Linked DNA regions of Homo sapiens. The protein of the gene in region 1 purifies or fractionates together with the protein of each later gene. This does not show direct contact. Each region holds a gene or a part of one and is shown in the gene's direction. Other genes may lie near its edges.

The links.
Region 2: the proteins of SLC35C1 (region 1) and HERC3 purify together in Homo sapiens (affinity purification with mass spectrometry; one large-scale study listed by BioGRID and IntAct). This does not show direct contact.
Region 3: the proteins of SLC35C1 (region 1) and TMEM33 purify together in Homo sapiens (affinity purification with mass spectrometry; one large-scale study listed by BioGRID and IntAct). This does not show direct contact.
Region 4: the proteins of SLC35C1 (region 1) and KIDINS220 purify together in Homo sapiens (affinity purification with mass spectrometry; one large-scale study listed by BioGRID and IntAct). This does not show direct contact.
Region 5: the proteins of SLC35C1 (region 1) and DPY19L1 purify together in Homo sapiens (affinity purification with mass spectrometry; one large-scale study listed by BioGRID and IntAct). This does not show direct contact.
Region 6: the proteins of SLC35C1 (region 1) and ADCY3 purify together in Homo sapiens (affinity purification with mass spectrometry; one large-scale study listed by BioGRID and IntAct). This does not show direct contact.
Region 7: the proteins of SLC35C1 (region 1) and NPR1 purify together in Homo sapiens (affinity purification with mass spectrometry; one large-scale study listed by BioGRID and IntAct). This does not show direct contact.

What each region holds. Positions count from the first base shown.
Region 1 is NC_000011.10:45,803,378-45,808,175, forward strand, and holds the start of SLC35C1 (GDP-fucose transporter 1), read left to right. Parts: upstream 1-1,771; 5' UTR 1,772-2,424; coding exon 2,425-2,959; intron 2,960-4,758; coding exon of another isoform or gene 4,759-4,798. UniProt on the Homo sapiens protein: Antiporter specific for GDP-l-fucose and depending on the concomitant reverse transport of GMP. Involved in GDP-fucose import from the cytoplasm into the Golgi lumen.
Region 2 is NC_000004.12:88,703,765-88,707,954, forward strand, and holds part of HERC3 (probable E3 ubiquitin-protein ligase HERC3), read left to right. Parts: intron 1-333; coding exon 334-517; intron 518-743; coding exon 744-846; intron 847-2,987; coding exon 2,988-3,196; 3' UTR 3,197-4,190. UniProt on the Homo sapiens protein: E3 ubiquitin-protein ligase which accepts ubiquitin from an E2 ubiquitin-conjugating enzyme in the form of a thioester and then directly transfers the ubiquitin to targeted substrates.
Region 3 is NC_000004.12:41,933,862-41,938,668, forward strand, and holds the start of TMEM33 (transmembrane protein 33), read left to right. Parts: upstream 1-1,567; 5' UTR 1,568-1,623; coding exon 1,624-1,668; intron 1,669-4,740; coding exon 4,741-4,807. UniProt on the Homo sapiens protein: Acts as a regulator of the tubular endoplasmic reticulum (ER) network by modulating intracellular calcium homeostasis. Mechanistically, stimulates PKD2 calcium-dependent activity. Suppresses the RTN3/4-induced formation of the ER tubules.
Region 4 is NC_000002.12:8,827,397-8,831,586, reverse strand, and holds part of KIDINS220 (kinase D-interacting substrate of 220 kDa), read left to right. Parts: intron 1-4,190. UniProt on the Homo sapiens protein: Promotes a prolonged MAP-kinase signaling by neurotrophins through activation of a Rap1-dependent mechanism. Provides a docking site for the CRKL-C3G complex, resulting in Rap1-dependent sustained ERK activation.
Region 5 is NC_000007.14:35,016,800-35,020,989, reverse strand, and holds part of DPY19L1 (protein C-mannosyl-transferase DPY19L1), read left to right. Parts: intron 1-2,393; coding exon 2,394-2,418; intron 2,419-3,020; coding exon 3,021-3,108; intron 3,109-4,190. UniProt on the Homo sapiens protein: C-mannosyltransferase that mediates the C-mannosylation tryptophan residues on target proteins.
Region 6 is NC_000002.12:24,833,098-24,837,287, reverse strand, and holds part of ADCY3 (adenylate cyclase type 3), read left to right. Parts: intron 1-242; coding exon 243-371; intron 372-2,294; coding exon of another isoform or gene 2,295-2,351; coding exon 2,352-2,494; intron 2,495-2,641; coding exon 2,642-2,803; intron 2,804-2,821; exon of another isoform or gene 2,822-3,546; intron 3,547-4,190.
Region 7 is NC_000001.11:153,684,939-153,689,128, forward strand, and holds part of NPR1 (atrial natriuretic peptide receptor 1 precursor), read left to right. Parts: intron 1-25; coding exon 26-146; intron 147-867; coding exon 868-942; intron 943-1,184; coding exon 1,185-1,262; intron 1,263-1,707; coding exon 1,708-1,812; intron 1,813-2,077; coding exon 2,078-2,149; intron 2,150-2,261; coding exon 2,262-2,418; intron 2,419-2,651; coding exon of another isoform or gene 2,652-2,674; exon of another isoform or gene 2,675-2,695; coding exon 2,696-2,851; intron 2,852-3,114; coding exon 3,115-3,283; intron 3,284-4,014; coding exon 4,015-4,161; intron 4,162-4,190. UniProt on the Homo sapiens protein: Receptor for the atrial natriuretic peptide NPPA/ANP and the brain natriuretic peptide NPPB/BNP which are potent vasoactive hormones playing a key role in cardiovascular homeostasis.

The sequences.
Region 1 (4,798 bases):
GGTCAGGCACGGTGGCTCACGCTTGTAATCCCAGCACTTTGGGAGGCCGAGGCCGGCGGATCACCTGAGGTCAGGAGTTAGAGAACAGCCTGGCCAACACGGCGAAACCCGGTCTCTACTAAAAATACAAAAAATAACCGGGCGTGGTGGTGGACGCCTGTAATTCCAGCTATTCGGGAGGCTGAGGCAGGAGAATCGCTTGAACCCGGGAGACGGAGGTTGCAGTGAGCTGAAATAGCACCACTGCACTCCAGCCTGGGCGACGGAGCGAGACTCCGTCCCAAAAAGAATAAATAAATAAAAATAAAAAATATTTTTGGTAAGTATTCTTAGTATTTTAAAACAAATCCCAGCCATGACATCATCTTACCCGTTAATTAAATGGCACTAATTAAATGGTGCTTGAAATATTACAAACATCTATGTTCGACCATACCACCTAGAGTTCTGGGCAAGAAGGTTGGGACCCACAGGTCAAGCCTAGCCCCTTAGTTTTACCATGAAGATAACTCAGGCCGTCGGAGAAAGTGGCCTGCCCAACGCAGGTGCTAGAGCGCGAACCAAGAGAAGTCGATCCTCCTGGTCTCCCCGGCTGCCTGGTGAGTGGCAGACCACAGGCTAGACTTCCCAGGCCCCGGCCCTGGAAGGGGCGGGGAACCCTCCCCCTCACTGCCAGCTGGAAGAATCCGAGCGGTCCCCGCACGCACTTCTGGAAGTGCAAGCCGGTAGCGCGGCGGGCCAGGGATACAGCCAAGTCCCGGGACGTGCCAGCTGCGGTAACTGAAGCCGGGTCCCGGGCGGGCGGGGGTACCAGGGACAGGAGTAGCCTTGGAAAGAGGAGAGGGCCTCCTCCCACGACCGTCCGGATCACCGCCTCTCCGCCGGCACCCCCGGGGCCCATGCCGCGAACAGGCCGGCGAGGCTGGCAAGGTGCCCGGGCCCGGGGCGGAAAGCAGGAAGTCGATCCCGCGGGCGCGGCCCAGGGTGCGGCGCTGCAGATGCAGCACGGGGTCGCGGGGCGGGCGCCCAGTGCACCGGAGGAGGTGAGCGCCAGGTCGCCTTCGCGGCCCGGGGACACAGGCAGGGACGCGGGAGCTGATGCGGCTGGACCGGCCGGGGAAACAGTATTTTCTGGAAGGGGTAAGAGATGCTGTCTTGAGCCTTTGGAATCTCGGATCCGGGCCGCCCAGAGGACCTCGACAGGAGCACAGGGAGGACAAACTGAAGTCCGAGAGAGGCGGCGTGGCCTCCGGCCTCGGGGAGCGCTGCCGGGGGTCTCGGGCTTGGGAGAGGGCCTGGGGGCGGTGAAAATGGGGGGAAAGGAGGGGACCACAACATTGTTATGGAAGAGTGAGCTCGGATTGGCAGAGGGACGCGGGGCTGCAACGCGAGTCTCCGGAGGTGGAGGGGTCCAGGCTGATGTAGCGCCGCCCGGGTCCTGGGTCGGGGTTCCGGGAAGTGGACCTGCGAGCCAAGCCTAGCCAAGTCGGGGGACGGAGGCTCCGGGGCGGACGGAGCTGAGGGTGGGCAGGCGAGGTTGATGGAGCCCTTCCAGGAAGCAGGGCGAGGCTCAAGCACCCAGAAAAACCTGTGGCTGCCGAGGTCCCCCGCCAGCAGCGGGCAGCGGAGCGCAGGGGCGGGGCTGGGGACTGGCGAACTCCGCCTCTCTGGGGCTGTCGCTTTAAGGGCAAGGCGGGGCGTGCGGGCCCTTTAAGGCCACGTGGGGGCGTGTCAGGAAGTGAGTCCAGGGCCCGCCTCCCGGGGAGTCGGCCTCGGATGTCCGGAGGCTCCTGGGCTGAGCCGGCGACAGAGCCCGGGAAGGCAGCGAGACGTGGGCGCCGGCCCAGCCCCCTCCCGCGTCCTTCAGCCCCAAGCCCCGAGCCCCTCTGACCCTTCCGCAGCCCTCCCTCCAGCCGCGCCCGGCCTCCGGCAGCTCCCTGTACGCCTCCCTCCCCCTGCCCGCCCCTCCCTCCCACAGCCGCCCATGACGCCCTCTCGGCACCTCTTCCCACTCTGCCACGCGTCCTTTTCCTGCACCTTCGCCCCGCGTACCTACTCCTGCCCCGCCCTGCCATTCCTCTCCCCTCCCTTCTCTCTGCGACCCCTCCCTGTTAGGCCCCAGCCTCTTCTCCCCTCACAGGTCTTCTCTGTCCTGGCCTCACCGCCTTATCCTATTCCTCTCCCTTGCCCTGTGTCTTGTCTCAGAGCCCCCTCGGGGTGGGAGTAGGTTGTGGAGCAGCACAACTGGGCTCACCCCAAAGCAGAACTTCTCAATCCATGAGGACAATGGGGAGGCCTTTAGGCCAGCCCACATGTGACAATGGAGGGCTGCGGCTTCCTTGCGGAGAGCACAAGTGAGCTCACTGCCCTGGACTCCAGGGAATCAGAGTTCTGGCCGCGGGGTGACCCAGCTCCTCTGCTACCATGAATAGGGCCCCTCTGAAGCGGTCCAGGATCCTGCACATGGCGCTGACCGGGGCCTCAGACCCCTCTGCAGAGGCAGAGGCCAACGGGGAGAAGCCCTTTCTGCTGCGGGCATTGCAGATCGCGCTGGTGGTCTCCCTCTACTGGGTCACCTCCATCTCCATGGTGTTCCTTAATAAGTACCTGCTGGACAGCCCCTCCCTGCGGCTGGACACCCCCATCTTCGTCACCTTCTACCAGTGCCTGGTGACCACGCTGCTGTGCAAAGGCCTCAGCGCTCTGGCCGCCTGCTGCCCTGGTGCCGTGGACTTCCCCAGCTTGCGCCTGGACCTCAGGGTGGCCCGCAGCGTCCTGCCCCTGTCGGTGGTCTTCATCGGCATGATCACCTTCAATAACCTCTGCCTCAAGTACGTCGGTGTGGCCTTCTACAATGTGGGCCGCTCACTCACCACCGTCTTCAACGTGCTGCTCTCCTACCTGCTGCTCAAGCAGACCACCTCCTTCTATGCCCTGCTCACCTGCGGTATCATCATCGGTGAGTGGCAGCTGGGGCCACGGGGGATAGAGTGGTCATGGGGACTGAAGCAGTGAAGAACAACTCTTCTAGGCATCCTAGGACTTCATCTGTCCCAGCTCCTTTGGTGCAGCAGTCATAGGAGAAAGAGCCTGGGGGCACAGAGAGAGCAAGTAACTTACTAAAGGTCACCCAGCAAGTTAGGAGCCCAGCCGGGGCAAGAACAATAGTAATAATAATAGTAACAACAGCAGCAAAAGCAACTGACATTTGTTGAGTGATTAAAATGTGCCAGGCACATGGATCTTAGCCATATTAACTCAGCTAATCTTCATAACAAGATGGGATTATAATCCACATTTTACAGAGGGAAAAACCAAGGCACAGAGAAGTTAACTAACTTGTCCAAGATCACCCAGCTAATAAGTGGCAGAGCTGGGATCTGAACTCAAGCAATCTGGCTTCACAGTTCACATGCCCGACCACTGTACTTTATTGTTTCTCAAGAGCTCAGGTGTCCTGATTTCCCAGCCAGTGCTCTTAGTAGAGGACAATACGTCTTTTAATAAATATACCATCACTCTCTGCCAGCTCAGGATAGCGCCTGAGACAGTAGCAAGCAATATGCTTTGAGAGGCCTCAGCTGTCTTCCTGGACTTGACCCTCAGAAAATAATAATTATTGATGGGGAAATTATGCTAATTATTTCACATATAGCATCTCCTTTGTTCTCCCAGAGATCCCCTGGGTTGTGGCATCACTACCAGCGGTCATCTCTATACAAACAAGGAAACTGAGGCTCAGAGATGTTACATTACTTGCCCACGGCCACACAGCTAGCAAGCAGCCAGGCTGGGATGCAAACCCAGATTGGCCAGACTCCCAGGCCTGTGCTTCTATCCCCTCTGCTCGTCTTGGAGGTTAGAACTGCAGTATTCAATGCAGTAGCCATTGGCCACTTATTTAAATTAGTTAAAATTAAGCAAAATGTTAAACATTCACTTCCTCATTTGCAGATGTTACAACCTGATTTTCTAGCCACATTTCAAGGGCTCAGTAGCCAAATGTGGCTGAGGGCTATGGTATGGGACAGCACAGGTTAGATGGGCCCATATTTTACTGGGCCCCATGCTGCGTTAGAGAGCCTCCAGCATCCCATTCCCTCCGAGTCTTCCCAGGGCTGCGTCATCTAGGAATGGGGTCTTCATTTGAACCTATGCTGGTTTTTCCTGGTGCTATAAAGTTTATCTTATTTGGCCTACATATCATATTCTTTGCTGATGGCTCAGGGTCCCAGGCTAGATGCACCGGTTGGTGGGGGAAGGGACCCATCCCATGCCACCTGTCCTAGAAAATGTTTCCCCTTGTTGAGCAGCTGCTGGATCTAGGGCTGCTGGGTCTAAGTCCAAGAGGGGAGAAGGGAGAAGGTCACAGTTAGAGTAGGGGAAGCTGCAAGACCCCCCCTGCCAGAACTCTCCCAGCCTGCTTCCATTTCCCTCTCCAGGGAACAGGTGTACCTCCCCTCCTCCCTGTCCTCCTCAGATGCCCCAGGGCTCTCTACTTCATTCCTGCTGACCCTGCCAGGAGTGGCCTCAGGGGTAGAGGCTCCTAGTTGGAGAATTTGCTTGCAGGAAGGTGAAGACACTAGGGTAACTGGGCCCAAATCCCAAAGGTAATCCAAGTAACCAGTGGTGAGGTTCTGAGAATGGTGCATTCACGGGCGTGCCTGACTGGGACAGGGGCCAGGGAGGTGGACGCTCTCTGCCAGCCCAGGACCTGGCTCCCTATCTGCAATGTTTCCTCTTTCTTCCTCCTTGTAGGGGAAGACGAGTCTCAGGCAACTATTCTAGGCCTCCCCTC
Region 2 (4,190 bases), on another chromosome or scaffold:
TTTTCCACACTAAATTTTAAGCAGGGCTTTTAACATGAAAACTGGAATACCTCAGGTAAAGCCAGTAGTTTAGTTCTATATACCTGGCCTGCTGCCCTTCCTATCTGGCTTATCCTGCCTTGGATCACCTGAGGCACTTGGTGGAATGTTAGGGCTGGGGATGGAGAGGGAGGAGAGGAGAGCTGGTAACCTATATGATGCCTTAGGATGCCTCCTGATTTGAGAATTTGATGAAATTCTATTTTTTATCACTCCCAATCTCAGTGTAGAAGGGTAACTTCATAAGCTTTACAAGACTTTGAGCTAAATGTATTTTCTTTTGTGTTCTGGCAGGCAGGAATTTGTGGATGCTTATGTGAATTATGTCTTCCAAATCTCAGTTCATGAATGGTACACAGCCTTCTCTAGTGGCTTCCTAAAGGTGTGTGGTGGCAAAGTACTTGAGCTCTTCCAGCCTTCAGAACTGAGGGCTATGATGGTGGGGAACAGCAACTACAACTGGGAAGAACTGGAAGAGGTAAGCACAAAAGATCCTTTAACTCCTTTAACTCCGGCGAAGCAGCAGCAGCCTGGGGAGGTGTTCCCAGAGCCTGGTCTCGTTCCAAGCATACTGTGGTTGAGTTAGATTTAGAGGTGTCCTGTATCTCAGCACTTATTTCTTAGCCTCAAATGCAAATGATATATAATGTCCACTATAATATTCTTCCAAGATACATTTTTTTCTTTTTCTCTTTTTTGGACAGACTGCCATCTACAAGGGAGATTACTCGGCCACACATCCCACTGTAAAACTATTTTGGGAAACATTTCATGAGTTTCCATTGGAAAAGAAGAAGAAGTTTCTCTGTAAGTATCAGTAATCTCAATATGGTATTTGTCTACATTTTAGTCTTACATACAGTATAGGATGACATGCTCCACAGCTGAGGCTTAACTCATTTAAATGGTAAAGACCAGGTAATTCACTATATGTATGCTTTTTGTCTTAATGTTATCTCAGGCACAATATAGGTTGTTAATCCAGATCTGTTGCCTAACAAGAGGGGTTGCATGAAAGGAAGAAAAGAAGCATCTCACTGATTTTTCTTTTCTTTCTTTCTTTTTTTTTTTTTTTGAGACAGAGTCTTACTCTGCTGCCCAGGCTGGAGTGCAGTGGCGTGATCTCAGCTCACTGCAACCTCCGCCTCCTGGATTCAAGTGATTCTCATGCCTCAGCCTCCCAAGTAGCTAGGACTACAGGCACCTGCCACCATGCCCGGCAGATTTTTATATTTTTAGTAGAGATGGGCTTTCACCATGTTGCCCAGACTGGTCCTCGTCTTGAACTCCTGACCTCAAGTGATCCGCCTGTTTTGGCCTCCCAAAATGCTGGGATTACAGGTGTGAGCCACCACGCCTGGCCTGATTTTTAAATTATTCTAAAAATACCAATTATTTTATATGTAAGTTATTCAAGTATTCCATTTATGAAGTCAAATTGTTTGGATTAACCTCTCTTATCTCTCTAGCCTTTAAAATATATTACAAAGTATCCAGATGGAACTGGGAAGGTGTGATTTATAGCAGCTTTATTGGGCTATAATTTATATACCATACTCATTTAAAGTGTATATTTCAGTATACACACAGTTGTGAAACTAACACACAGTCAATTGTAGAATACATTCATAACCTCAAAAAAGAAACCCCATACCTATTAGCAGTCATTCTCCATTTCTTCCCAGCTCCCCCACCAGTCTTTCTGTCTCTATGGATTTGCCTATTCTGGATATTTCATGCAAATTGAATCATATAATATGTAGACCTTTGTGGCTGGCTGAATGACATTTGAGAAGGGTAATAATACCTTTGGAAAGGAGAATGAATTCTAATTTACATGAACAAATTCAGCCTTTTAAAAATGGTTGAAATATTTCTCAGTTTGTGTCTGTGTGTAATCAGCGTCAGAAATTAGCTAGTGCATAGTATGGAATTTTAGTCATGTAAAATCAAAGCACAGGGTTTGATAGGCAGTCTATTTTGCTTTATAAGATGGAGCATATATTAGTATTAATGTAGGACTTAACAGGTTCTGCTGCTCACATGGGAGCAAGGATGAGAGGAAGTGGAGATCTTACACAAGAATTCTTAAAAAGAGGGACCACTTCTCCTCTGCCTGGCTGCATTGGCTATTGAGAAGCAGTAGTGGAAGAGCTGAATGACAGGTTAAGGTTTGCCAAGTGAGCTTGTAGGGCTGTGACATTCAAGAGATGCCTGCTCATGGTCCTGGAATTTCCCTAGAAAATGGCACTTTCTGTTCATTAGACTTACAGAAATGTTTGTTAACTCTGGAGATTTTTGGCAAGAAACTTTATGTATCACAGCCTCAGGGAATGGCAGGTTATTTGAAAGTGCTTCTTAACTAATGATTTTCTTATAGTAATTTCCAGCAATTCAACTATGAGAGTGTTGTTCAGCACTAGAAAACAAGGAGCTGTCTTTCTCTGTCTGTCTCCCTCTCTCTCTTTTGCCAAGTCACAGTGCATGTCACAAGAGTGCAATGTCTAACATAATGTTTGGGTCAGCTCTTCGGGTTTAAGAAAAATGGAGACGTGGAAAGGAGAGCAAATAGATCCTAAATGGAATTCCGTAGACAAGGTGGTACAGGCATCAGGCACTTGAGGTGAGAGGAGACCCTGAGGTCAGAGACTTCAGTCTTCTTCTGTTTTCCCCTTAAGATCAGCTCCTCTTTTCCTATGACAGCAATTCCTTCCCTCTTTGATTTTGTGAAATCTAACATTTGTGAGGGTGTACATTTGATTGAGGCCTTTTTTTTTTCTTAACGGCATCTAATTTTCATTCCACAGGATGCATATTGGCACATAAATGTAATTGTACTTCTCATGCAAGCCACAGGGTGTCATGCCTTCCTCTCCTGTTGCCAGAAGGATCTCTGAGATCCATTTTCCGTTTGCTTAGCTGCTAATGCCATTTCTCGTTCTCCCCAGTGTTCCTGACAGGCAGCGATCGGATTCCCATCTACGGCATGGCCAGTCTGCAGATTGTCATCCAGTCCACAGCCAGCGGGGAGGAGTACTTGCCGGTGGCCCACACTTGCTACAACCTTCTTGACCTCCCCAAGTACAGCAGCAAAGAGATTCTGAGTGCCCGGCTGACCCAGGCCCTTGACAACTATGAAGGGTTTAGTTTGGCCTGAGGCTTCTCAGCTTGTCCAGTATTTCCCTTCGTTCCTCAGTGTCCACATTGAGGCCTATACAGAAAATCATGGGGAGTGATTTCTATTTTTTTATTGTCTAAGTGGGTTGGGACTTTTAAATACTGAGCCTGGTTGATGTGTTTCTGGGATTGTATAGCAGTAAACAACCTTTTTGAAAAATTAGAGGTTGGGGATGGGGTGAAAAATTGGCCCTTGTATGGGAGGTGTTTTTGTTTTTGTTTTAAACCAAACTACCCAGTATTCCTTGCACTTGTGAATGTGTTGCACTCTGCTGGATGAAATGGCAGTGGATTTTTAAACTTTAATTTCCCAAATGTCTCTCTCAGCCCTGATGTTTTCTCACAGTGCTTCCTTGTCCTTCTCTTAACTTCTCATTCCTCTATAAGAATGATTTAGACTGACCTGTCCTTTTTTATCTGCGCATGCGAGAACATCACCTTCCTCTGTACACTTGGAAATGCCTCTGGCTTGTTGCAGCCCTCCTTTAACCCAAAGGAGGAAAGGACTGCTTCAGAAACTCCCAATTCCAAAAAGCTGAGTCTGGGTCCATTATTTTGGCAGAACTCCTAAGAATTTATGGGAGCCTATATAAACATATCTTGCTTTTAAAAAGTTCTTGAGGGAATAGCAACTTTCCCATGGCTGTGCCTATTTCCTAGACCTTTTAAAAGATGTGCAGAGCAGCTTAGCATTCGTTGCAGCTGAGCCTAATTTTTTCTTGCTCATCCTTGTCCCTTTGACAATAAGGTTAATTGATAGACCCACCACCTCTTGCACTCTCGCTTTTGGAGCAAGTTGCATTAACTATTTTGAGTCTCTATATTGTCCAAGAAAAGTAGAAATAATAAATTTACTTTCCCTTTTTCTATCACCTTATGTCCTCTACCATTTTCTCCTTCCTCCCTTCCCTTATTTTCTCCTTTTCGTACCCTGTGTCCTCCCTGATTTTCCTTTCGTTTCTTCTTTATTTTAT
Region 3 (4,807 bases), on another chromosome or scaffold:
GTCAAGTTCAGATCCTTTCCTCAGTACACCCCTGCCTGCCTCTCTAGCGCAAATCTTTCACAATCCCCTGACTGGTACCATCATTCTGGTCACACTCAACTAGTCCTCTCGCTGTCCTGTTACTTCTTGCACTTTCTGTTACTCTGTATGGAGTTCCCTTCCCGTTTTAAGGCAGAAGAATATGGTATGGCGGTAGGGAACCTAATGCCCTTTCTCGCTGACTTCCTAGAACTAAATTGAAGGAAAATCCTTACTGTCCACGCTTAAGTGAATAAAGGGCCAGATACTACTCCCTTTGCAAGCCCCAACCTGTTCTGCGCAGATTTGGGAAATTGAAAGTACCTCTGATTGGTTGCTTTTTGTAACCAATCAGACGTTTGCATAGAAGTGTAACTTTGTAACTTCTTCAGCCTCTGATTGGTTGCTTTGCGCAACCATTCAGACTGATTGCGGGCCACCACTTCATTTACATGAAGTGAACTCCAAGTGGCCAATGGGAAACCTCTAGGGGGTATTTGGACCCGAGAAGACTCTGTATCCAGGGCCCTTGAGCTGCTGTCTCACTCTCCCACACTCTGGAGTGTACTTTCATTTTCAACAAATCTCTGCTTTTGTTGCTTTATTCTTTCCTTGCTTTGTGCGTTTTGTCCAATTCTATGTTCAAAACGCCAAGAACTTGGACACCCTACACCAGTAACACTTTCAGCCAACTTTTTGTCGTTCAAGATCAAGGCCCGGACTTACCTTTTCCAGGAAACCTCCCCAGATCCCTTCTGATTTAGGTACCGTCCTCTGTGCTCCCTGTGATTAAATCAGCCTCTACACATATTACACAATCACTATGCTCTGATTTCCGTTTACTTGTTTCTCTTTTGCAATCTGTGTCATATTCCTCTTTTTATCCGCCGTGCCAAGTATGGAGCCTGTCACATAGCAGGCCTCATAAATACTTATTGAAAGAATTAATAATAGACGTAGAACCAACGGGCTTAGTAAGCCCCTGGAGAAAGGAATCAAAGATGTTTCTGAGGCCTCTATATCAGGAAGTGCGGAAATTTCATGGTTTGAGAATGGGCAGGAAAGATCATTTGTGAGCTGTATTTAATGCAAAAGTTGCTCCCCCATCCTGATTTCTTAGCTCACTGGGCCAATCGGCGGAAGGACAGGTGGGGCTCAAATTAGGAGAAAAAAACCACACTTCCCGTCATGCCTCTGGGCACCGCTCCCGTTTCCCCCTCTTTGTCACCGCCTCTTCCCCACGGAAATGAAAGGAGCACTTCCGGGTTCGGCAATAACCTGGAGCCGGCGGCGTAGGTTGGCTCTTTAGGGCTTCACCCCGAAGCTCCACCTTCGCTCCCGTCTTTCTGGAAACACCGCTTTGATCTCGGCGGTGCGGGACAGGTACCTCCCGGCTGCTGCGGGTGCCCTGGATCCAGTCGGCTGCACCAGGCGAGCGAGACCCTTCCCTGGTGGAGGCTCAGAGTTCCGGCAGGGTGCATCCGGCCTGTGTGTGGCGCGAGGCAGGGAAGCCGGTACCCGGGTCCTGGCCCCAGCGCTGACGTTTTCTCTCCCCTTTCTTCTCTCTTCGCGGTTGCGGCGTCGCAGACGCTAGTGTGAGCCCCCATGGCAGATACGACCCCGAACGGCCCCCAAGGGGCGGGCGCTGTGGTAAGTGCGAGGGCAGGGTAGTCTGGCTTGATTTGCAAGAGTTAGGAAGAAGCAGGAAGCGTTGCGAGTCCCGAGGCGTTCCAGAAGCTCAGTGCATTCAGGAATGGGATTAATGAGTTGGGGTGGGGAAGTTGGAGCGGGGAGAGGGGAGGTCCTGAGCGAAGATATGGAGGGAACTACAAGTTTGTTTCTGAAGCGACAATAGGCTGACCTGGAGCTGGTGGCCCCCACCTGTATGCCATGGAAATTGGGCCTTCTTTCCTCTTCTCCCACCTCGGTCTTTTGTTTACCGTAGGCCCCAAGGTTAAAGATGCCGCATGAGATTGTGCCATGACACACATGATCCATGACACACACCACGTGGAGCACACGAGTGCCGGCAAAGAACGTTTCTGCCTAGTTTATACAATCGTATATAGAAATTATGCAAAGGGAGGAGAGCGGTGGTCTTTTTCTTCTTCACTTTGTTCTTTATGAAGAGAAATATCATTATGCTTTTGTAATTTTTTTAAGATGCTGATCTGGAGCTAACAAGTTATTTGTGCCCGGAGCATTGCTGTCCTCTACTTTTTAATCCATAAGTAGTTAAGTATTATTCTGTGTGACCACAATGCAGTTACCACATTTGGGAAATATTACCTAATATAAAATCCATGTGCAAATTTCCATAATTGTCCTTTAAAGCTGCTTTCTCTTCATCTGGGATTCTGTCAAAAAGCATGCATCGATGGGCTGGCGCAGTGGCTCACTCCTGTAAGCCCAGAACTTTGGGAGTCCAAGGCGGGAGGATCGCTTGAGTTCAGGAGTTAGAGACCAGCCTTGGAAACATAGCGAGACCTCATCTCTACTAGAAATCAAAGAAATTAGGCGGGGCGTGGTGGCTCACGCCTGTAATCTCAGCACTTTGGGAGGCCAAGGCGGGTGGATCGCTTGCGCCCGAGAAGTTGAAGCTGCCGTGAGCCAAGATCGCGCCACTGCACTCCAGCCTGGGTGATAGAGCAAAACCTTCTCTCAAAACAAACAAACAAACAAACAAACATAAATTAGCCGGTCGTGGAGGTGCGCTCCTATAGTCCCAGCATAGTCCCAGCTACTCAGGAGGCTGAGGTGGGTTGTGCTTTTGCGCTCCAGCCTGGGGTGACAGAGCGAGACCCTATCTCAGAAAGCATGCATTCAATTTACTGGCCATATCTTGTTTACTGCCTTTTAATCTAGAACAGTTCTGCCCTCTCCTCCCCTTTTTTGTCTTTTAAGATACTGATAGTTTTCAAGAGTCCAGACATGTTTTGCAGCATATATAGGTACATCTAATATGTATATCTATATTATATATCAGGAAGCATTTTACATTGATTTATCCCATCATTGCAGAATTTGTTTGATTATTTGATTAAGGTGGTGTCCACCAGTTTCTCCATTGTAAAGATACCTTTTTTCCTTTCTAATTAAAAAGTGTTCTTTGGCATGATACTGTGACACTGTGTGAATATTGCTCCTCAACAATTTTTCACCCAAAGATCTAGTGATTTTTTTTTTTTTTTGCCTGATGGTTGGACAGTTTACTCTTAAAAAATGTATACCAATAGACTTTCTTAAACTTTTAAAATTGTATAATATACATAAGTGTGTACAAAATGAAACGCATAGCTCAATGATTTATTGCAGAATAAACAACCTGAACAAATAGATTTTAAGGAGAATGTTCTAAAACTAACTTTCAAGCTGTGGTGCCCAGTCATAATATTTGTTGAGAAACTGAGCACAGTAAGCTGGATTCATCCTTCACTTGATTACTGCTAATCATTTCAGTTTATTGGAGTCACAGTACGGTAAGTCTGGATTTAATGATAAATCAAAGTTGTATTTCATATTTCTGAAATTACCTACATGTGGGTTAAAAAGACATAAAATAAAACAGCCTGGAATTTTACAATGTACTTGGATTTTTCCCTCAAATTTTTTATATTTTTTTTTCAAAAGATAATGAAATTAAATTACATAGAGCAGTGTTTTTAGACTTCAGGTAGACCCATTAGTGAGTTGAGAAGTCAGTTTAGTGTAAACACCAGCTATTTTTAAAAAATTAAATAGAAAATGTCAAAATCCATTATATACAGTAGGGTAAATATTTGTGAAACTTTTGTTTATATATCCATGTATATGGATCTCAATGTTAAAATTACGAAGATCCTAGACAAAAAATGTAAAAGCCACTTTTGAATATAAGATACATTTTAATGAGAAAACACATTTTAAGATTCTGCTTTAGTGGTAATAGACATAAGTATTGGGGGGAAAGCAGCAAAGGAAAGATAGAATGGGAAAAAAATGGGGGAAGAAAATGGTATAGGAAAGTTTAATCTAGGACCACCGAAACTAGGGTAAGACTTGTGGGGGAACATGGAGGTGATAAAGAGAGTGGTGTAATCAGAGAGGCAGGTGGCCATTTAATACCTGTCAGCCACATTTTGAGCACCTAGAGTATGCCAGGCCCTTGTGCATGTAGGCAGATTACAAGGCGAATGAGTTTAGTTGTTACTACTATCATGGTTTTATATTTCTTCTTCAAAAGGTTTCTTTAATCCCAACTGGCTTTATGTGATGTTTTACTCAGCTCTGAGACCTACCTATTCGGATTTGAGATTTTTTGCTAAGAATAGGCATATGGATCTCTTGAGAGCAATTAGTTTTTGTTTAATGTTCTTTTAAAATAGATGAAGCCAATATTGCAAGTGTTAAAGGAACACAGACAATTGTAGTTGAATTTCTGTTAAGATTATTTTTTCTAATTAATTAGTCTTTGCATTTTTTTAAAATGTCAGCTGATATTTTTCTATTTATTTCTGTTTAAGTACTTCTTGTGCTTTCCACATGAAAACTATAAGGTGTTTGGACTTCTCATTAAGCATATACATGAAACATGTAATTGCCTTAGAGTTTTCACCTAATGATCTAAAAAAACAAATGGAGGAAGATTAAAATATTTTGAGTAGACATAAAAACCACACAGTCTTGATGCTTAAAAACATGATTTGCAGGCATAGCTTACAGTATTTTTCTTTTTAAATTTAGCAATTCATGATGACCAATAAACTGGACACGGCAATGTGGCTTTCTCGCTTGTTCACAGTTTACTGCT
Region 4 (4,190 bases), on another chromosome or scaffold:
ACAGGTGTGGAGGAGCCCAGGGCCTGGCCCAGCTTGGGGTAAGCAGCCAGTCAATGAAGGCTTCCAGAAGATCTGTTAGAGCCATGTTCTTAAGGATGGGTAGGAGCTGTTCAGGCATATATACGTGGAGAATGGACTTTCTAAGCAGAGGGGGCATTAAGTGCAAAGGTCTGGAAAGAACAAAGTGTGGGGCAGTGAAGGAGCTGCAAGTAGATCAGTCTGGCTGGAGCTGGAGGTGTAGATGTGACTATGTAGAGGGTGGGAGGGATGGGGCTGAGGAGGGGAGAAAGATAAGGCTGGAATGGTAAGATGGGGCCAGATTGTGAAGAATCTGCATGCCCTCATCATAATCAAGAATTGAACTTACTGAGTTTTCACTCTGCTCAGTGGAGAGCAAAGCTTTCCGTAGGAATTGTGTATTTGCATCTTTACAATGGCTTTAAAAGCCTTAGAAGGCGTAAGTTCCTTGAATAACTTGTAAGTAGTAAAGCTGTCATCTGTCCTCCCAACCTTGGTTTTAGGAGAGATGTATTGTAGGTCACTCTTGCTTCAGTGTGGCAAATGGATTGCAGGTGGCAGGCCTGGAGAGAGGAGGCAAAAGTTGCTAGCCTGTCACATTGATCTGGGTGAGAGATGGTGTAGTAGAAGTTTTTAGGATTGATGCCTAGATCACAACTGTTTACTCTTTTCTGGAAACAGTGCCAATATGGTGTGACCTTGTAACCCCCTCCCAACTTTGTGTCTCTAGTTGCTTGGTTCTGGGTGTGCAACAGATCCAGCCTGGGCAGTCAGAGCCCTTTTCTGGGACTGTTGGATCTGGGAACAAAGAATAGCCTGCTTTCTCTGGTGTTAGAGACTATCTGATTTAGGCCAGGTGCGGTGGCTCACACCTGTAATCCCAACACTTTGGGAGGCAGAGGCAGGCGCATCACTTGAGCCCAGGAGTTTGAGACCAGCCTGGGCAACATGGTGAAACTTCATTTCTACAAAAAATAGAAAAATTAGCTGGGCATGGTGGTGTGCACCTGTAGTCCCAACTACTCAGGAGGCTGAGGTGGGAGGATCGCTTGAGCCCTAGAGGTCAAGGCTGCAGTGAGCCATGATCGTGCTACTGCACTCCAGTCTGAGTGACAGAGTGAGACCCTGTCTCAAAAAATAAATAAACGATCTGATTTGAGGCTGGATGGCTGTGGGAAGCCATATTTCCCTTTGTGTAGAAGTAGTTGGTCTAGAAGGAAAGTAGATTAAGCCAGTAGAGAAAGAGAATCCTCCTGGCATTTGAGGTCCAGTGGCACCCACTCTTCCTGTAGTGTGGTTATGGGAAATAAACCATTATCCTTCAAATACATTTTTCTGTTTTGCTTAAGCTAGTTTAAATTAGTCTCTTGCAACCTTAGGGGTCTTGATTAGTATAGATGGTGAAGGTCTAAACTAAGGCACTGAGTGTGGGGTTGGGTGATCTCACACTTTAGGGGGTAAACTGGATGAAAAATGGTAGCTGTGTGACTCAGAGGGAGATGGGTGCCTTGGTAGAGTAGAGATGAGGATGGTGTTCTACATGGAAGGAGCACATTGAGCATAGGCGGGAGTGTGGAGCAGCACTGGGGGAGTGTGGTGAATTTGAGTTCTTCTGCTTGGCTGGGCTGTGGGGTGAGCTGGGGCTGGTATAGAGGGAGAGCCAGATCCTGCAAACCTCACTGAGGCCTTAGGCTTGATCCTAGAAGGAGTGGGAATAAATGAAGGTAGGTGTTGGTGATGACTGCTAATACAAACCCTCACTGCTTTCTAATGATAGAAGCATCACATTCCAGAACATGTAGGAGATAAAGGTTTTAAAGAAAATAAAAATTACACTAATGCCCATCACCATTTGTTCTTTTTTTATTTCCAGTATTTAAAAATGTATACATTTAAAATAGCTGAGATGCTGTATATATAGCTCTTAATCTTTTACCTCACTTCTTCTATCATGAGCATTTTTCTGTAACACATTTTTTGAGACATTTTGATGACTGTATATTATCCTACTTTGTGAATTTTTATAATTTATATAATATCCATTTCTAAGATTTTTGTTCTTATGGATAAAATTGTTTTACTTAAAATCTTAAAATTTTGTTCATGTTTCTCATGTTTTTAGAATAATTCCTAGAAGTGCAACTATGGGATCAAATAACATCATTTTTTAAAATAATAGTTTTTCACCCCAAGAGTATAAATTCAAGTTGTTCTGAATATATACTCCCTAAAAGTAAGGTATACTGATTTATACTTTACATGTAATAACATTCACCCTTTTTAATGGACAGTTCTGAATTTTGACAAACGAATGATTGTGTAACTGCCACAACAGTCAAGATATAGAACAGCCATTAACTCGCCAAATTCTCTTGTACTCTTTTGTAGCCATCTCATTCCCCTGCCTTAGACCCTGGCAGCCCCGATCTGTTTTCTGCCCCTGCAGTTTTCCTTTTCCAGAATGCTATATAAGTAGAATCATATAGTGCTATAGTTTCTGCCCTCTGGCCCCCAGAGATAGATTTCCTTCCTGTGTCAAAACATATTCACTCCATCGCAAGGCCTCCCCAAAAGTCTCAGTTCATTTCAGCATCAACCCAAAGTCCACAGTCTCATTTAAATCTCATCATCTAAATCAGGTATGAGAGGGTCTGGGTGTAGTCCATCCAGAGGCATGATTCCTTTCCACCTGGGAAACGCAAGAATCAAGTTATCTGCTCCAACTTAGAGTTAGGGAATGGGCATGGGATATCAGTTATAGACAGTCCTGTTCAAGGGTGGAGGAAAAGGAAGGCAAAGAGGATTCACCAGTCCCAAATAATTTCATTTTCATAACAGCCAAAGTTTTCAATTTTGACGAACTCTGGTTTATCAGTTTTCTTTTTTTATGCACCATGCTTTTAGTGTTATATCAAATCTTTCTTAATCTAAGGTCACTGAAGTCATCTATATTTTCTTCTAGAAGTTTTGTACTTTCAGACATTATATTTAGGTCAATTTTGAGTTAGCACCTGTATGTGGTACAAAGTATGGATTGAGGTTTATTTATTTGCATTTGGATGTCCAGTTGAATATAATAAAATTTCTACTCTTTTAGAACTTATAGTTATGGTAGACAGACAATAAGTGAACAATATGTCATTTTTTGGATGGTGGCAAGTGGTGTGGAGAGCAGTGAAAGCAGGACAAAGGGTTGAGAGTGCAGGGTGACAGTGAAGCCTGTGTGGGGTCGGTACCCTGACATCCCACATCCGGTGAGACTTTGTAACCAGGTGACCTGACGGGGTCAGGGGGTAAGCCGTGTGCATGTCCTGTGGAAGAGAATTTTAGGCAGACAGAAAAGTAGCACAGAGGCCTGGCGAGGTGGGACGGTGCTCAGTGTGGCCATGCAGCCAGGAGGGTGAGAGGGGGTGGTAGGAGCTACAGTCACAGGTGTCACACAGGTGAGAGGCTTGCCACTGAAGAGTTATCTTGGCCAAGGTAAAAACATTTGATTTTACTTTGAGCACCCCGAGAAGCCCTTAGAGGGCTTTGAATAAAAGAGGCCATGCTCTGACTTAGTACTGCTCACATTGTGGTTCTTCCTCAGTGTTGTCAGTGTCACAGGGAGCTGGATAAAGATGCAGAGTCAGGGGCCCCACTCAGACCTGCTGAGTCAGAATCTCTGACGGTGGGGCCCAGGAATCTGCTTTAAAAGCTCTTCAGGTGATTCTGATATATGTTAAAGTTTTAAAAAAAGTAATGTAATTTTAATTGACAAATTATATATATTTAGGGGTACAATGTGATGTTTTGATACATGTATCCATTGTGGAATGATCAAATCAGGCTAATTAACATATTCATCACCTCCCATACTTAATTATTTATTTGCAGTGAGACCATTTAAAATCCACTCTTCCAGGTAAAGTGGAGGCAGGGAGGCCAGTTAGGAAGCGATGATAGTGACGCAGGTGAGTCACGGTGGCTCGTCCAGGGTGGCAGTGATGAAGTGGTGAGTAGTAGTCAGATGTGAAATGTATTTTACAGGTAGAGCCAAAAGCATTTGCTAATAGATTGAGTGTAGGGTGTAAGAGGAAGAGGTAAGTCATGAACAATTTCAATGCTTTTGGCCTTGGAAGAATGGACCTGGAGCTGCCGTTTACTGGCATGGTGACAGCAGGAGGAGCAGG
Region 5 (4,190 bases), on another chromosome or scaffold:
TGCCTGTAATCCCAGCACTTTGGGAGGCTGAGGCGGGCAGATCACCTGAGGTCAGAAGTTTGAGACAAGCCTGGCCAACATGACCAAACCTTATCTCTCCTGAAAATACAAAAATTAGCCAGGCATGGTGGCATTTACCTGTAATCCCAGCTACTCGGGAGGCTGAGACAGGAGAATCGCTTGAAACCAGGAGGCGGAGGTTGCAGTGAGCCAAGATCATGCCACTGCACTCCAGCCTGGGTGACAGAGCAAGACTCCTCAAAAATAAAATAAAATGCAATAAAATGGAGAACTGAAGATAAGTTTAAAAAACTATATGAATTAACAGTTTAGTAAATGAACCAAAAATAAATACATTGCAAAATAAATACTCTTCAAAAATAAATGCCTTAACAATATCCAATAATGTATAATAAAAAACATTTTATGAATATTAGCAGGAAAAAAATGTTTAACTCCCAGGAGAAACTTCATAAGAAATGCATATGTTAACAATACCTGTAGAATTTTTCTCAAGGACTATCGAAAAACAGTTTGAACAATTGAAGATATATGTTATGTATATATACACATACCTATATATACAACATATGTATATACCCACACCACATTTATGGATATGAAGGCTCTATATTGTAAACGTGTAAATTCTTCCCAAATTAATTTTATAAGTGAAAATCCAATTATAACCTCAGAGTGATTACCAAAGTAGAAGCATGGCAAGTCTTCAGTATGATAAAAGTTGCATTTACATTCAATGGGAGAAAAATAATTTATTCAGAAAATGATAGTTGAATCATTGTGAAAATAAAGACCAAATTTTATTATGTTAGGATTATTATTATTTTTTTTCTTTAGAGACAGGGTCTTGTTGTGTCATCCAGGCTAGAGTACAGTGGTGTGATCATAGCTGACTACAACCTCAACCTCTTGGACTCAAGCGATCCTCCCAGCTCAGCCTTCCTGAGTAGCTGGGACAATAGGCTCGTGCTTTGTAAAGACCTGATCTTGCTGTGTTACCCAGCCTAGATTTAAACTCCTGTCCTCAGCTGATCCCCCTACTTCCTCCAGCCGAGTAGCTGGGATTATAGTCATGAGCCTGGCAGATAAAGTTTTTAAAGACAGAAACTAAAAGGAAGCAAATGGTAGATTTGTTAATAAGAAAAAAATTTAAAATTTCAAAAGATCAATATATCTTATTAAAAAAAGTCAAATGACAAACTAAGTTAGATATTTGTAACTTCAATTATCTAGAAGTAACCATTCGTATTTCCAAGGCAAAATGGATTTTTAAATGAAAAAATATAACTGACTTTAAGAATAAAACAATAAGATCTGATCTATTTGGTTTTCATTTTTCTTTCCTTCTCTTCCTCCTTATTCTTCCTTCCTCCTCTCTTCTTCCTTCTTTCCTCTTCCTTCTCCTCCTCTTCTTCCTTCTTTCTTCTTCCTTCTCCTTCTCTTCTTCCTTCTTCTTCTTTCTTTTTCCTTCTTCTTCCTCCTACTTCTTCTTTTTCTCTTTCTTTTGTTTTTTTGAGAAACAGAGTCTCAGTATGTTGCCCAGGCTAGAGAGCAGTGGCTGTTAACAGTCATAGTCATAGCACACTGCTGCAGCCTTGAATTCCTGGGCTCGAGATGATGCTGCCTCTGCTTCCCCAGTAATGGATACTACAGGCATGTGCCACTGTATCTGGCCTGGGTTTCCTTTCTAGGAGTATTTTCATAGGTTGATTCCTTAGTTAAGAGTTATTTAATCAGAAGCCTGCCATCAGCTGTATCTTGTGAGATAAGAAAATTGAATGGTGTCTTCCAGGTTCATCTTAGTATGTTCTTTCTGCTTGGACAGATAGCAAGGTATTGATTTTCATATGAGACTGATTTTATTACTAGCTTGTTTTCTCTCTCTTACCTTTTCTTCTCCTTTACTCATTTCATTTTAAATTTGTTTAAAGACACGGGTTAATATTTGTCATAAAATTTCAGGCATTGCAGCAGTATATCAGAAGTGGTAGTTCCCTTTTTTCTTCCACCCCCAATCCTGTACCCCTCAGCCACCATATTTCTTTATTCTAAGTTATCCTTACCTGTTGATTCCATTCCTCTCTCAGTTCTATTAGCAATAGTTTCCATCTAATGGTTTCTGTCTATTAGCGGATATTAGGCCTTCATATATTTTGTTGAATGAGTGAGTGAGTGAAAATGGTGGCTGTATGCTTAATTCCCTTATGAGCTAGTCAATCACAATTTTAAACGTAGCCCTGGGACTTTTTTGAAGACCCAGTATTCTTTTTTACACATTTCAATATTTGACATGCTTTATCTTTGAAATGGCTTTTCTGTAAGATGAACATGTTTATGCTAAAATTCTAATTTAAATTTCTTTTTTCTTACAGCTGTTTTTGCAGCAGTGTTGCACTGGTAAGATTGTTTTTTTCTCCTATGGTATTTTATGCAGACGTTTATAACTTGCTAAAGCTATTTCCCATACATTTAAAGGAATAATTTCAGCATGATCAGTATGAATATATATTACATGTAACACAATAGTCTGAAAAACTAGTTTAATTGATAAATCAGGGTCAGAATAATATAATTGTTTAATAAAAAAGAGATTCATTATTAAAGAGGCTATATTTGAGACTCCACTCAACATTAATATGTTCATGGTGAGAGAGAGATTAATTTATTTAATCTTCTAGATAGAAATATGAATTTCATTAGATGTTTCTAAAATGGTAACCCAATGACATTTACAGTTTAATCTATACTTTTATTGTACTTCACTTAAAATATTCTGGTTCATTTTAATTTTAAAATCTAATTTGATTTTTTAGAGAGGGAAATTTTAGTATAAATGCAATACATACTGAGTGAAAAAAATATAGATACTATTGTATTTGAGTGTTATTACAAAATTATCTGCAAGTTAACTGATACTTTTATTTTTGCTTTTAGCTTACTTTAAAAAATAATACTTAGAGTGTAAGTTTTAACACTATTGCTTTGTTTTGTTTTTCCAGGAGCCATATAACACACCTCTTTGAAAATGACCGTCATTTTTCTCACCTCTCAACATTGGAAAGGGAGATGGCTTTTCGCACTGAAATGGTTAGTTTTTATTTGGGATTTCATCATAGTACTTTAGGAATTTAAAAACATTTAATATTTTTTATTATGGAAAATTTCAAGATGTTCCAAAGTAGAAAGAGTAGATGCTCCACCTTCTACAGCTGACAGCCACAGCCAGTTTTCCTTCATCTACACCCCCACTCACTATGTCTTTTTTATTTTTTATTTTTATTTATTAATTTTTTTTTCGAGACGGAGTCTCGCTCTGTCGCCCAGGCTGGAGTGCAGTGGCTCCATCTCGGCTCACTGCAAGCTGCACCTCCCAGGTTCACGCCATTCTCCTGCCTCAGCCTCCTGAGTAGCTGGGACTACAGGTGCCTGCCACCATGCCCGGCTAATTTTTTTTTTTTTTTTTTTTTGAGACGGAGTCTCGCTCTGTCGCCCAGGCCGGACTGCGGACTGCAGTGGCACAATCTCGGCTCACTGCAAGCTCCGCTTCCCGGGTTCACGCCATTCTCCTGCCTCAGCCTCCCCAGTAGCTGGGACTACAGGCGCCCGCCACCGCGCCCGGCTAATTTTTTGTATTTTTTTAGTAGAGACGGGGTTTCACCTTGTTAGCCAGGATGGTCTCGATCTCCTGACCTCATGATCCACCCGCCTCGGCCTCCCAAAGTGCTGGGATTACAGGCGTGAGCCACCGTGCCCGGCCAACTATCTCTTTTTAAAGGGAATCCCAGACATTATATCATTTCATGCTTTCATACTTTCATAAGTGTCTCTAAAGATAAGACTTTGTTTTAACTATGGCACAAAACCATGGCACAAGACATACTGGAAAACATTTAACAATATCCTTAATATAATCAAATAGAAATCAGTATTTAAATGCCCTGTTTGGCACTTTAAAAAAAAAAAAACAAAAAAACAGTTGATGTGTTTGAATAGGATCCAAACAGTGCCTACACATTGCATTTAGTTGATGTGTATCTTAAGTCTTTTAATATGTGAATTTCTTTACCTGTTTTTGTTTTGTTTTCCTGCTATTTGTTTGTTGAGAAATCCAGCTGATTTGTCCTATAGAATTACCCACAATAATCCTCATTCTTCAATTATGTTCCTGT
Region 6 (4,190 bases), on another chromosome or scaffold:
TAACCTGCTCTCCCTCGGTCTTCCCATCTCAGTTAATGGCAGTTCCATCCTTTTATTAACAACTGCTCAGACCAAAAAGTTTGAAATCATCCTTGACGCCTCACTTTGCAATCCACAAGCAAGTTCTGTGGCCTCAGATTGCTCTCTAATCCCACCGCCTCCCACGCCCTTGTCACTTCCAGACCTGTCCACGCCACTCTCATCCCATGCCCAGATCATGGCTGAGCTCTCCTTTCCTCTAGGCCCTGCCCAATGGAGCACCAGCTTCCTCAAAGTCCAGCTCCCCTGCCCTCATTGAGACCAAGGAGCCCAACGGGAGTGCCCACAGCAGTGGGTCCACGTCGGAGAAGCCCGAGGAGCAGGATGCCCAGGTATGTGCAGGGCTCAGGGCAGGGGGTCACTGAGGGCCAGATGCGGGCAGGCACCAGGAAGCAATACGTTCCTGCAGCAGGAGTCCTGTGCTGGGGAGACCTGGCCACCACCCAGGACCTGCTCCTGCTTAGCACTGTAACCATGGACAGGTCACCCCTCCAGCCCCGCAAAACCCCACTGTCTCCTCATCAGTTACATGCCGGGGTGAGTAAGGTCAAAAGAGGTGCTTAGCTCGGAGGCCTTTGTAGCTCTGATGGCCCGGAATCCTGTAGATTTGAGATCAGTGAGGACATCCATGGAAAATTATATAGGATCTGAGACCATTTTGGAAGTGAGATATCAGACCTGGACTCACCCCTCTGGCTAGGTTCAAGCCCCACAAGTTCCATGCAAGATGGGATATTTCCTTAGCCCCCAAAGGCGAGGAATTAGCATGCTGTCCCAGAGTGCAGGGTGCCTCTTGGGGAGCACCCAGAACTGGTCCCTGACCGCAGGGCGTCTGGAGCACGTTCACTGATGGAGGTCAGTGCTGCAGAGATGGGATGTCTGCCCTGCTCGGGCTCACCGCGTGAGGGGGACAGGAGAGCTGGCCCTGGTGCCATTAGAGCAGATGCCGTAGAACAAGAGGGTAGATGGGGCTCAGGGTAAATTAGGTTTTTCTTGAGTCCCCCAACATTCAGTAACTTTTCCTTGTTGCAGTTTTCTTGATAGAAAGTGGGGGTCCAGACTCAGGGCACTCACTAGCAAGGAGGACACAGATGCAGCTTTAGCAGCCTGATTTTTCGGGCCCTGACCCTCAGCCAGGGCCACGCTGCTCCCGGATCTGCTTCAGGAACAGGTTCCCGCTGCTGCCACAGACCATCCACGTGATTTTACAGAAGGGGAAGATGTGGCTGGGGAAACATTATCTGGGGTCAAACTGTCAACCAGTGGCACACCTGTGCCTGTGCTTAAGACCAGGGAGTCTTTTTTTTTTTTTTTTGAGATGGAGTCACGCTGTCACCCAGGCTGGAGTGCAGTGGCGCGATCTTGGCTCACTGCAACCTCTGCCTCCCGGGTGCAAGAGATTCTCCTGCCTCAGCCTCCCAAGTAGCTGTGATTACAGGCGTGTACCACCATGCCTGGCTAATTTTTGTATTTTTAGTAAAGATGGAGTTTCACTATGTTGGCCAGTCTGGTCTCAAACTCCTGACCTCAAGTGATCCACCCACCTCAGCCTCCCAGAGTGCTGGGATGACAGGCGTGAGTCACCGTGCCCGGCCCCAGGGAGTCGTGACTGTGGCTCCCAGATGCACTGTTGAACCCGTTCAGACAGCTCTCAGCCCGTCTCAGTGACTATTCAGACTGATGGCTGTGTCATCACAGCCAGGATTCCTGTTTTTGGAGTTGATGCTTTTTCTTTGGAACTGGGAATAAAAGGGTAGTGGGTGCCCCAGCTCCACCTACCCGCCCCTTGTCAGCCCTCTAGTGATGAGGACATTCTTCTCTCTCCCATCACTTTCCCCCTCAGATCTTCCTTTCCAAATGAGCCAGATGTGAGTTCCTTTAACAGTTCCCTGAAGCCCTAGAGTTGGGAGCCATTCATGTCCCCAGGCTGCCAATGTATATGGCCCCCACATCAATACAGCAGGAAGTGCCAGGACTGCCTCAGCCCAGCAGCTGTCTCCGATTACAGGTCTCCTGCTCAGGAGCCAGGGGCTGCTCCCTACAATGCTGTCATTAGCGGACCCTCCCTGCAGAGCTCTGGGTGGGGGGCCCGGGGAGCCAGGAAAGACTGGAGCTTTGGGTGTAGATCCAGGCCACATGGAGCCACGTGGGAGCATGGGGAAGACTTCCCGGAAAGGGATTTTAGAGCTGGAGGGATTGGTCCTCCGAGTATGCCCTCTTTTGTTCCTTTCCTCCTCCACCTCTGTCTTTCCCAGCTCTTCCCCACCACTCTGTCCCATCTGCCCCACTCACGCTGCCTCCCTGGCTCACAGGCCGACAACCCCTCATTCCCCAACCCACGCCGGAGGCTGCGCCTGCAGGACCTGGCTGACCGAGTGGTGGATGCCTCTGAAGATGAGCACGAGCTCAACCAGCTGCTCAACGAGGCCCTGCTTGAGCGAGAGTCCGCCCAAGTGTAAGCGCCACCCGGAAGCGTCCAGGCCCACCACTCCTCCCGGGCCCTGACAAGGGATTCAGGAAACTGAGCATCCCAAATACGGCCCCCCTGCTAGGCCAAGGCAGATGTGGCATTTGGGATTCATGGGGCTTGTTCCCACTGCAGAGTAAAGAAGAGAAACACCTTCCTCTTGTCCATGCGGTTCATGGACCCCGAGATGGAAACCCGCTACTCGGTGGAGAAGGAGAAGCAGAGTGGGGCTGCCTTCAGCTGCTCCTGCGTCGTCCTGCTCTGCACGGCCCTGGTCGAGATACTCATCGACCCCTGGTGAGGGAGGGGCCGGGGAGGGCCACGAGTTTCCTCGGCTGCGGTGGTGCCGGGCGGGGGGCGGGGGCAGGTGTCTCAGCGGGAGCCTGACATTGGGGAGCAAGCCAGTCTCTGCTCCCTGACCCCCACTGGGACGGCCCCCACAGGCCCCAGGAGTGCTAGACGGCACCCTGGGCATCCTTCCTTTTCCCTGCCCCGCGTTTTGGAGCAGTCCTAGCGTCAGAATGGGGATCTGGCCAGGATCAAGAGAGCTGAGGGACAGAGGCCTCCAGAAGGCTGGAGACCTTGGCTAGATGGGCCCACACTGATTCTTGGGACAAAGATGGGGACACTGCGTCAGTCTCAGTCACCAAGGCTGACCTGGCCCCTCTCTTGGCTCATCTTGGTAAAGATAGATTTTAGGCTGTGGGCACAGACTGACGCCCTCTCTAACGCAGCAGTAGGTCCTCCAGGGCAAGGTGTGGCCTCCTGGAGTCCCCAGCTGGTGAAGCCCTGTCTGAGGGTGACGACCACTCTCTTGTTCTCCCTTTCTCCCCTCGGCCAATCGGGGATTCCCCGTCACAGAGGAGGGGTCTGGAACCCTGCTGGGATTACAGTTTGTCAGGAGCCTTGGGCTGGGTCACACTATCTAAGGTTGCGGGTGTGTGACCACGTGCAGGCCACTGCAGGCTCCGGCAGCATCTGTTTCCTCATCTGTGAAATGAGGAGAACAACCCCTGCCCTAGCGGACACTCACGACTGTGGTGAGGCTCAAATTCACTCATTCCATAAGTATTGATTGGTTGTCTGCTTCATGCGTGGGGATCAAGGGCTGGGGCTATGGCAGCGATGCGGCACACAGAAACCCCTGCTCTCGTGAAACTTGGGTTCTGGTAGGGGAAGCTACAGGCAAAAGCAATTAAACAATTAAAATATGCATCCATGCGAGAGTAAGTACTGCAGACACAGGGAAGGCAAGGAAGGGAGGCGGGTATGCTGCTGGGGAGCTTTGTTTTGTTTTGTTTGCATTTTGATGTGGGATGGTCAGAGCAGGACTTGCTGGCAGGATAATATTTCAGTAACGCCTGGAAGCGGGTGAGGGGCGAGCCTTCTCCTATCTGGGGGACACCTGCTTCGGATAGAGGTGCTGAGGCTGGAGTGGCCTGGCCCCTGGAGGCACAGTGAGGAGGCATCGCATTGGGAACGGGCCACAGGAAGAGTAGCAGGAGTCCAGCACAGACGTGGGGCCTCCTACACGCCACTGCAGGGTGCCAGCTTCCACTCTTAACACAGGAGGCCGCCAGAACAAGGGAGCAGAGGAGTCCCCTGTTGTGACATATGCCTGGAGAGGCTCACTCCTGCTGAGAACAGCGCTTAGTGAGCACAGCGGGAGCAGTGAGACCAAATA
Region 7 (4,190 bases), on another chromosome or scaffold:
CTCAGATGCAGCCTTCGTATCCCAGGAAGATGCAGCTGGAGAAGGAACTGGCCTCGGAGCTGTGGCGGGTGCGCTGGGAGGACGTTGAGCCCAGTAGCCTTGAGAGGCACCTGCGGAGTGCAGGCAGCCGGCTGACCCTGAGCGGGGTAAGAACGCTGGTGTTTGTGTTGGGGGGCAATAAAGGAGAGGTGGGTACAAGGGGCAGTGCCTGAGGGATAGGTAAGGGAGCAGGATTCTAGTCCCAGCTCTGCTTTCACTTGCTGTGTGACCTTGAGCGACTCATAGTCCCTCTCCGAGACTGTCTCAGATGATGATTACAGCAGCAGAGCCTCCCTCACAGGGCTCTTTTAAAGGTCAGAGGAGATAGTACCTGTGAAAACACTTTAAAAAAAAAAAAAGTAAATGAGGAGGAAATTTTATGATGTGGAACATAAAGCAGGGTGGGCCAGGCACAGTGGCTCACATCTGCAATCCCAGCACTTTGGGAGACCGAGGCAGGAGGATTGCTTGTGCCTGGGAGTTCAAGACCAGCCTGGGCAACAGAGCAAGACATCGTCTCTACAAAGAATACAAAGATTAGCAGGGCATGGTGGCGCATACCTGTAGTCCCAGCTACTCTGGAGGCTGAGGTGAAAGGATCATCTGAGCCCAGGAGTCTGAGGCGGCAGTGACCTAGGATAGCACCACTGCACTCCAGCCTGGATGACACAATGATACTACATCTCAAAAAAAAACCCAACAACAAAAAGGAAGGGTGACACAAAGATAAGGCAGGATAAGGCAGGGAAATAAAGACCAGAGCACAAGCAATCAGGATGCAGACTGGGCCCACCGGCTGACCATTCCTCCTGCTCTCCCTCCTTTCAGAGAGGCTCCAATTACGGCTCCCTGCTAACCACAGAGGGCCAGTTCCAAGTCTTTGCCAAGACAGCATATTATAAGGTGGGCCTGGGGAAAGATCACTGGGCCTTGGGACTGGGGCAGGAGTGTACTCTGATGGAGGACTGGTGGGGGGTTCTGAGGGAAGGAGTAAGCTGGTGGGGAGCAGCAGATGGGGGCCCTGGGGGTGGGCTATTGGGAACAAGTGAGGGTCCTGAGGGCAGGGATGGGCTGTCGGGAGCAGCTGGAATTCCCAGGACATGGGACCATGCTCTTCACAGTGACAGTCTCCATTCCATGCCCAGGGCAACCTCGTGGCTGTGAAACGTGTGAACCGTAAACGCATTGAGCTGACACGAAAAGTCCTGTTTGAACTGAAGCATGTAATGTGGGGAGTGAGGCAGTGGCATGGAGAAGGGGCCCTCGGGGACGCAAGGGAGACTGGCCAACAGAACTAGTTATGGAGGGACCTCAGGGTACCCCAAGAAAGGGGCAGGGACTGGAGCCCTGGGATGGACCTTCATCTTGTGGGTGGGAGTGGGGGTATCCTAAGCTAGGAGAAGAGACCACTGGAGATAACCTGGAGGAATCTTGAGGGGCCATATGTGATGTCCCTGGGGGAGAGAGGGCTTAGGATGCAGAGGGAGTAGGAGCAGATTCTGGGGAGGGTGGGCTAAAGGACATGGGTGGGAATCACCAGGGAAGATCTTAGTGATGGTTGCAGAAAGTGAATAAGGAGTTAAGAAGAGTGAGGGTCCCTGAAGCTAGTGAGCAGCTTGGTGAGGAGCGAGGTCTCTGTCAAGCTCCTGATGCTGGTCCCACTTGCAGATGCGGGATGTGCAGAATGAACACCTGACCAGGTTTGTGGGAGCCTGCACCGACCCCCCCAATATCTGCATCCTCACAGAGTACTGTCCCCGTGGGAGCCTGCAGGTGAGGGGGACAAGGGGTGTCAAGAAACCTGGGTTCTAGCCCTGGCTCTGCCCCTGACTGGCCATAAGACCCCAGGCATGCCTCGCCCTCTTTCTGACCTTTCTGGCCCCATCTGTAAAAATGGGAGTTGGGGAAGGGCAGTGGCACTAGAGTCAATCCAAAGTTTTGTCCTGTTCTACCAGTTCACATCAGTAGGACCCTGCACCCTCCTCCAACTCCCAGGGGGATCTGCAGGGGATTGGTCTGACTCTTATTGCCCCAGCAGGACATTCTGGAGAATGAGAGCATCACCCTGGACTGGATGTTCCGGTACTCACTCACCAATGACATCGTCAAGGTATGCCCCTAAGCACCTATTGGATGTGTAGAGCAGGGGCCAGGCATGCTTCTCCTGGCCACGGGTGTAGGTCCCACTCCTGGCCAATACCTCTGCCCACTCACATTTCCAGGGCATGCTGTTTCTACACAATGGGGCTATCTGTTCCCATGGGAACCTCAAGTCATCCAACTGCGTGGTAGATGGGCGCTTTGTGCTCAAGATCACCGACTATGGGCTGGAGAGCTTCAGGGACCTGGACCCAGAGCAAGGACACACCGTTTATGCCAGTGAGCCTTGACTCTTGAACCTAACACCTGCCCCCAGCACCACCCAGTAGGGAGACTGATGCAAGGCCTCTGATGGGCTTGGGCATGCTTGTCCTGACTCCAGCCTCAATTCATTCACCCATGAAAAAGGGAAGGCCAGACGAAGTGGTTTCTAAGGCCTCCTCTAGCTCTAACACTCTGTGATGCATCCAGATCAGTTTCGGCCACACCCTTGTTTCCCCCTCACCCCTTAGCTTTGGGCTCCCTCACTCGGTGACTACCGACCTCTGACCCACAGAAAAGCTGTGGACGGCCCCTGAGCTCCTGCGAATGGCTTCACCCCCTGTGCGGGGCTCCCAGGCTGGTGACGTATACAGCTTTGGGATCATCCTTCAGGAGATTGCCCTGAGGAGTGGGGTCTTCCACGTGGAAGGTTTGGACCTGAGCCCCAAAGGTGAGAGGAGCACACCTTCCTTAAACCCAGCCACAGTCTCAACGAACCCCAGCCCCAGGGAGAGGGTCCCCTGGCAGCACCACCACACCTTCCTTCTGTAATGGGGTTCAGTCACCACCCTTTGACCCATTGCTGCCAGTGACCAGTCCCCCGCCCCCATGCCTTGGTCTTGGACTTCCCCTGCCATCTCAGCTGGTTGCCCCAGTCTCTCACTAGGCCCTTGGCCAGCCCCACCCCTCAGCTCCTCTACCCCCCCAATACAGAGATCATCGAGCGGGTGACTCGGGGTGAGCAGCCCCCCTTCCGGCCCTCCCTGGCCCTGCAGAGTCACCTGGAGGAGTTGGGGCTGCTCATGCAGCGGTGCTGGGCTGAGGACCCACAGGAGAGGCCACCATTCCAGCAGATCCGCCTGACGTTGCGCAAATTTAACAGGTCCCTGGTGTTTGTCATGGATCCCCCAGGCCCTTCCTCCACAGCCACCATTTACCTAATGCTTCTGGCTCTGGCTTATCCCAGCAGTGGCAGAGGGAGACCACTCACCTCCTCCCTGTACATAGTCAGCTCCAGCTCAGCACAGCCTCATGACCCTCTTCGCAAGTACAGCATGACTCAGCTGTCCCCACAGTCCCCTGCCATTCATGCCCCTTCCCTCCACCATCGACACCCCACACCCTTCCTGCCCACTCGCCTTGCTGGCCTCTAGACTTCTCAGCAGTGTGTAGGATAGATGGGCCTCCCGCCTCCTGCCCTGTAGGCTCTTGGCCCTCCACGGGAGCTCCTGCCCCACCCCTTGATTTCCCTTCCCCAGCGTGCCCACCAGGCCCAGTTCCTCCAGACACACCCTTCTGTGGACATCACTTTGTCCGCAATTGACCCTTGTCATTCTCCACCTCCTTTACCTCCTTCTAACTCACTGGGTTCAACAAAGATGAACAAAATGTCCATATGTCTGAAGCTTCATACTTGACCTTGGGGTCTCAGAAAAGAATTGAACTTTCTTCCTTCTGTTTTCCCCTGCTCCCCGGTATCCTGCTATGCCCTCAACCCTGAGCGTCTCTAGAGACCTCACTGCAGTCTGGAGGGGGAAGTGCCTAGGGGCGGGCGCTCACGGTAGGCTGTGCTGCTCCTCTCTTACCACCCCCACCGCCACCCTCTGCCCCCAGGGAGAACAGCAGCAACATCCTGGACAACCTGCTGTCCCGCATGGAGCAGTACGCGAACAATCTGGAGGAACTGGTGGAGGAGCGGACCCAGGCATACCTGGAGGAGAAGCGCAAGGCTGAGGCCCTGCTCTACCAGATCCTGCCTCAGTGAGTGCCTGAGTCTGGGGACCCCCCCC